Linked DNA regions of Homo sapiens. The protein of the gene in region 2 purifies or fractionates together with the protein of the main gene of each other region. This does not show direct contact. Each region holds a gene or a part of one and is shown on either strand. Other genes may lie near its edges.

Region 1 (3,500 bases), on a different chromosome or scaffold from region 2:
ATTTTCACATCTCTCTCCCTCTCTCTCCTCTCTGTTTCTCGTGACCTTCCCAGTAAACAGTGAGGTGAGGAAAGCAGGTATTTTATTCCCCTCTTTTGACTGAGGCTCAGGAAAGTTGAGTGACTTCCTGTGGTCACACAGCAAATTGGTGAAAGACCTAGGACTTGAAACCAGAGCTTTTGTCCACTCCAAGGCTCTCGTGCCCCCTCCCCAACTCTCCACGGGATGCCTCTGGGCTAGGTCAAAAATGTCTCTCAGCAAACTTCTCTCCTGGCTTTCTAAGCACCATTTATTCCCTCTTGAAAGGTCTGTGGGGCCCCAAGGCATTCTTCTGGGCGCACACTTAAGCACCATTTATTCCCTCTTGAAAGGTCTGTGGGGCCCCAAGGCATTCTTCTGGGCGCACACTTACTGGACATCTCTGAAGATCACAGTCACACGGTAGTTGTTTTGCACCTCAATGTCCCACACACACTTGGCATTGTTTGGATAGTTCCCGGGATAGAATGGGCTGGAAAAGTCCCCTGATGGTTGGGATAGGAAGCCTCCGCAGGAATAATCTGCTGTCAGGACAAAAAGTGGGAATGTCGGTGACCCCCAGAGCACACTGCACAGTCTACCTGCGGACTACTTTAAATTTAAATTACTTTAAAATTTTATAAAATAATTCCCAAGACAGAAACCAAGTAAGAGCAAGAGGTGGCCTAGATCTGGACCGTCCACTGAGGGCTGGCAGGGCACTCTTGCAGGGAGACCACTTTGGGGGAAGCCATCTCCTCCCCAGCCCCATTGTCACTGAGGAAATGGGAAGGGGAATTTCCAGGCCACTCTGCCACAGACTTGTCAGGGAGCTCAGAACTTACTGTTTGGACGGGTGATGTTGAGAAAAGGAGCTGTTGACAAAAAGAAAAGATCAGGATCAGTTTTCTGGCATCCCTGACACAGCTGTCGACTGCTCATGAGCTGTGCAGATGCTGTGCCAAGCCTGAGTCCACAGGGAGGAGCTGGACACAGGCCTTGCCCTTGGGGAGCTCACTTGCCTTTGGGGAGGTCTGGAGGAGAGCGAATCCCAGCACACTGGGAAAAGGATGAGATTGACCAAAGCCTGGGGAAGGAGAGGAGCCTGGAAGTCTGGCCCCTGCCCCAGATGGAGTGGGGAAAAAAGGGCAGTAATTAGGGGGCAGGCAAAGAGGTAGAAACGGGGTGTCCCAGGCAGAGGAACAGCAGGTGCAACTGCACCTGGGTGGAATAGATTTGGGAACCTCCGTGTAGATGGAGCAGGCAGAGGATGGGGAGAGGGCACCAAGCATAGGGAGCAGATCATGGGGAGCCCTGGCAGTCATGCTGTGCTGAGGAGCGGGGTCATCACCAGAAGACCCTGAGGAATCTCTTGAAGGGGCTGCACAGTGGAGAATGGATGGGAGGGCACAGGCCTGAAGCTGCTGCTATGGGAGGCCAGGAGGGGATGACAAAGCAAGCAGGGGGCGGGGCAGTGGGGGGTGTTGGAGAGGTGCCAGGGCCATGCTGGGAACACTCAGAGCAGCTCAGGGGCAGGCAGGGAGGAGCTCTGCGATGCAGTGGGCCCCATTTGGCCAACACTGGTCAGGGTCTGGTGTCTGTGAGGACAGTCAAATCTGACAGGTGGCGGGCCTCACCTCGGGACTGACTGGAGATCCTAATCTTAGGTGGGTCAGGCCACTGAAGCACAGAGAGGGGCACACTATCCTGGTGGCCGGCAGGGGAGGGGACAGGGGCTGTAGAGGATGGTACCACAGATGAACTCCTTGGAGAGTGAGCAACATGCCCTGCACAGTCTAGGCAGCAGTAATGGAGAGACCTGGAGACCAGGGAAGTGGAATGGAAATCGGAGGGACTTACCAGGTGTCGATAGATGGTTTCCTGAAAAAGGAATAGAAAAAAAGCATAGGTCACAGACATGTGGCTTGGAGGAGGGGCCGGAATGAGACAGAGATACACTTACATGGCCCATAACCTGACCCCCCTCGGCGAGGGTCCCCAGGTCCACCCAGCAATTGCTATTGAGAAGCCTTCCCAGCTTCCCCAGATGCTCCCTAAGTCCCGTCATACTTGTGGTCATCAGGATTACAGCTGAGGTCATAACACCCATCACTCTCTCCTTGACCATGATTGTTCTAAAACCATCCCAATTGTCACCAGTAGCAAGTACTATCATAGCCACCCCGACTCAACAGTCAAGGAAACTGAAGCATAAAGAAGTAAAATCATTGCTGGAGGTCCTTTAGTCAGATGAGTGTTCAGCATAATGGCCCTGGGTCCAGAAACTGGCCAAAGATAAAGCAGCCCCCTGCATGCTCTTCTGGAGTGCGCAGGCCACGAGGACACAATGACCAGCTCCTGCCTGGGCCACAGACACCATCAGCCACTGGCCTTAAGCTCTTGCTTTATAGCAAGTTACAGGTGAAATGGGCCTTCCATGGCATTGGGCCATACCTGAGCAGATGACACCAGCATCTTCACGATGATTACAGTTGTGGGAGAACCAGCCTCGGTTCCGGCACTGCCAGAGAGTGGATTCCGTCCCTGAGCACTCTACATCGTCCAGGGTGATGGGGCCAGAGCCAGAGCCAAAATATGCATTTCCAAGGGCTGAAACTGCACGTCCACACCCTAGCTGTCTGCAGACCACCTCAGCTTCCTGAATGGTCCAGGAGTCATCACAAACTGTCCCCCAGGTGCCACCATGGTAAATTTCTACACGCCCGGCACATAGACCATAGGATGAATTTAAATTGACCAACCTCAAGGTGGCATCTGAAAGACACATTAACTGAGAGATCATGGCCATGTCCCACAACAAATGTCCCACAACAAACCTCAAAGGCCAAGCATCCCACAGGCCTTTTCCCACCTCTAAAGTCGCCAAATAGAAATGTGGAAAAGCTGGGGTGGAGGTACTGGACCGCTCCATGCAGAGCTGAAAGGGGCTCTAGACATCGCCAAGCTCAGATCCCCTCACCTCCAGACGGAGAGGGGTGGCTCTGAAGGAGAGTCACCAGGTCCCCTGGAGAGTTGGTGGCAGACCCAAGGCCAGGTGGAACCCCCAGTCTGCACCCTTTGCTGCCTTCCCAAGGGCCTGCCCACACAGTCAGTGCCAAGAGAAAGAGAATGGGCCGTGCATCGCTGAGGCCCTTCTTTGATTTCCTTGGGGAACCATGGTGCCCCCAAAGAGGCAGCTGGGTAAATCCACCAAGCCTCATAGGCATGGTCTAGTGTGCACTTACCGCTTGGGAAGGAGTTATACCAAGCCAAAAAGCCAGTGTTTTGGAAACTGATGTCACTTCGAAAGTGAATGGTCATTCGGTTGTAAGAAGATGTAAATATTTGCCTGGTATCATTACAGATTTTCCCCAGCAGGAGACTGCTATTCAATGATCCATCAAAGATTTCAACATAATCAAAACTGCAGTTATGGTGTGCCTCCAATCTGTATGGAGAAAATGTATTCAAGTCAACATTGA
Region 2 (3,500 bases):
TCTTAAACCGGGGTACAGGGATCCCTGGGGATACACAGTCACTTTCCAGGGGTTACATGAACACAGAGAGTTTTGAGAGACTGATTTATTTCTAGATTCTCAAGCCTGTATGTTTTTTTCCTAAAATGACCTGCCTGAGGGGGAGCCTGTGGTCGGCCTGTGGTTCTCCTTCCTCTCCTTCCATTGTACAATTCCCTGTCTACCATGGTAAACAGAAAGGGACTCCTCTCCGCATCCTGGATGTGCTGCTCCTGGGTGTAAAAACCTCTGGGGTATCAAACAGAGGCCCCTGCGTGGATGCTCGGCTTTTCCCAGGGGGACCTTGGGAGCAAAGCAGAGAGCATCAAGAGAAACGTGCTGGGGAGATTTGCCCCAGGCTACAAGCGCAGGCAAGGAGCCAAGCCTTATCTAGCTGTTCCCGTGTGCAGTGTCTACTATTTATCTACAAATTAGAATTCAAAGTGAGATAGCGGTCTCAGGGATGCATGTCAACACATTTCTTTCAATGAAAGAAAATGAAGCCAACATTTTTCTTATAATCAGTTTGACGTCTAATTGCTTTGGCAAAAGAGGACAGGCATTATTACTTAGATTCTACTGTAGACATTTCCCATAAACTGAATAAACTCAACCCTGTAGCTCCAAGAGTTTGGATGAAAATACAGTTTAAAAAAATACACAACAACGCTGGAAATCCCATCCTTGGCAACGATTCAAACTTGGGATAAGAACATTTTAATGTTAGCTGAAAATGTGTGGAGGAGTACATAGTTCTAGAAACTTCTTTAAGAGTGACATGAGAGCCAGGTGCAGTGGCTCACGCCTGTAATCCCAGCTCTTAGGGAGGCAGAGGCGGGAGAATAGCTTGAGCCCAGGAGTTCGAGACCTGCTTGGGCAATATAGTGAGACCCTATTCTCCACAGAAAGGAAAAAAAAAAGACAAAAGAGTTACGTGAGCAACAGTTAGAAGATCATGGCTTTAGAACATGCATGGTTTCCAATTGCCCCTCAATCTTGTGGCCAAGAGACAGCAGCTGATGCTGATCTTCCAGCCATATCTGTGGCCAAAGTGAGACCATCTTGGTTCAACACCCACAACCTTCTCGATTAAATAGATAATGGTGGTTTAGTCAACATTTCCCTTCACTGGTTCTTTTTTTTTCCTTTTTTTCTTGAGACGGAGTTTTGCTCTTATTGCTCAGGCTGGAGTGCAATGGCATGATCTCGGCTCACTGCAACCTCTGACTCCTGGGTTCAAGTGATTCTCCTGCCTCAGCCTCCCAAGTAGCTGGAATTACAGGCACCTGCCATCATGCCAGGCTGATTTTTGTACTTTTAATAGAGATGGTGGGGGTGTGTTGGGGGGGGTCTCACCATGTTGGCCAGGCTGGTCTCGAACTCCTGACCTCAAGTGGTCCACCAGCCTTGACCTCCCAAAGTGTTGAGATTACAGACGTGAGCCACCACACTGGCCCTTACCATAGTATGGTTCTTACCGTAGTGGTCAAGATTATTACTACAAGTCCTGGGCCACGGAGGGAGAAGTGTGTGTGTGTGTGTGTGTGTGTGTGTGTGTGTTTGGCAGTAGGTGAAGAGAAAGGTCATCTTTGCAGAAGCAGCTCAAAAATTTCATGAAAGGACAGTGGGCTTAGAGGCCTGATGACCAGGCTGGTCTCTGGTGGCCTCAGGTGAGTCTCTTTACCTTTTCCGGTTACCGTGCTATGGCCCTAGACCCAGCCTGTTGTCTGTCCACAGGGCTGCTGAGAAGAGGAAACTGATGACTGAGAGAGAGGGTGTTGAAGAGATAGAGGGGTTGGGCTGGGCACGGTGGCTCACGCCTGTAATCCCAGCACTTTGGGAGGCTGGGTGGATCACCTGAGGTCGGGAGTTTGAGACCAGCCTGGCCAACATGGTGAAACCTCGTCTCTACTAAAAATACAAAAATTAGCCAGGTGTGGTGGCAGGTGCCTGGAATCCCAGCTACTTGGGAGGCTGAGGCAGGAGAATCACTTGAACCCAGAAGGCAGGGGTTGCAGTGAGCTGAGATCGTGCCACTGCACTCCAGACTGGGCCACAGAGCAAGACTGTCTCAAAAAAAAAACAAAAAAAGAGAAGAGGAGTGGAAAGTGAGAAGAGGCAGTGGTCAGGCTCCCTCCAGCCACCCATGGGATAGAGAAGCTGCTGGAGTGAGTTCATTAATTAATAATATTTAAAACTAACACTGACTTGGCCCTTACCACATGTCAGGCACGATTCTAAGTGCTTTAAATATCAACTTATTTAATCTTCACGACAATCCCACCAGGCAGGTTTTACTATTATGTCCATTTTACAGATGATGAAACTGAGGCTCAGAGAAGTTATGAGACTTGCTGAAGCTGGGATTTGAATCCAGGAAGTGTGCCTCCAGAGTCTGTCTTTTAACTCTGGGAGCATTCATTTCACCCACTGTGTCACAGAAATGATTTGAATTAGGAGACCTTGGGAATGAGGAGTGTCTGTTTTCCCCTTGGGAAGGGCATCTGCAGATTCACAGAGCGTCTGCAGGTTTAAGGCACTTAAAACAGCCTGCAAGTGATCCCTGCATGTGAGGAATATGAGGATATATACATATTTGTTGTTGTTTGTTTGCTTTTTGTTTTTTTTTTTGAGAGAGACTCTCGCTCTGTCACACAGGCTGGAGTGCAGTGGTGCGATCTCAGCTCACTGCAACCTCCACCTCCCAGGTTCAAGCAATTCTTCTCCCTCAGCCTCCCCAGTAGCTGGGATTACAGGCGCCCGCCACCATGCTCAGCTAACTTCTGTATTTTTAGTAGAGATGGGATTTTACCATGTTGGCCCGGCTGGTCTCGAACTCCTGACCTCGGGTGATCCACCGGCCTTGGCTTCCCAAAGTGCTGGGATTACAGGCGTGAGCCACCGCGTCCAGCTGGGAAATAGTTTTATAACTTTTGGATAAAGAAGATATGCATAAACAAGATATGAAATAACACTTGCCCCTCCAGAAGGTTAATAAATTTGACTACAAAGCTAAACACTTCCGTATGATGGTGATTGAAATTATGCAATCAGTAATAATAATAGATAACATTTATTGGACATTTACATGAAGCTATGCAGATAACTTTTATGTGCTTTATTTTACTTAATTCTCTCAGTAACCAAACAAGGGAATAGCACTGTTGATGAAAGGGGAACACGAAGAGTTAAGGAATCTACCAAAGGTCACATAGCTAGAAAGTGGTGAGCCAGGATTTAAACCCAGCCAACTTAGTCCCAGAAGTTGCGTTTCTAATTCTTAAAACAAATATAAAAGACTATGGGAACTTATTTCCAAAACATATTAACAAACAACAGCCCAATAGAAAAATGGACAGTGGGCCGGGCACAGTGGCCCACGCCTGTAACCCCAGCACTTTAGGAGGCCGAGGTGGGCGGATCCCTTGAGCCCAGGAGTTCGAGACCAGCCTGCACAAGATGGTGAAACCCCGTCTGTGCAA

The links. The genes of interacting proteins can lie anywhere in the genome.
Region 1: the proteins of SPNS3 (region 2) and DMBT1 purify together in Homo sapiens (affinity purification with mass spectrometry; one large-scale study listed by BioGRID and IntAct). This does not show direct contact.

Annotation. Positions count from the first base shown.
Region 1 is NC_000010.11:122,630,254-122,633,753, reverse strand, and holds part of DMBT1 (scavenger receptor cysteine-rich domain-containing protein DMBT1 isoform e precursor), read right to left. Parts: intron 3,467-3,500; coding exon 3,264-3,466; intron 2,794-3,263; coding exon 2,473-2,793; intron 1,900-2,472; coding exon 1,879-1,899; intron 894-1,878; coding exon 864-893; intron 564-863; coding exon 413-563; intron 1-412.
Region 2 is NC_000017.11:4,440,440-4,443,939, forward strand, and holds part of SPNS3 (protein spinster homolog 3), read left to right. Parts: intron 1-3,500. UniProt on the Homo sapiens protein: Sphingolipid transporter.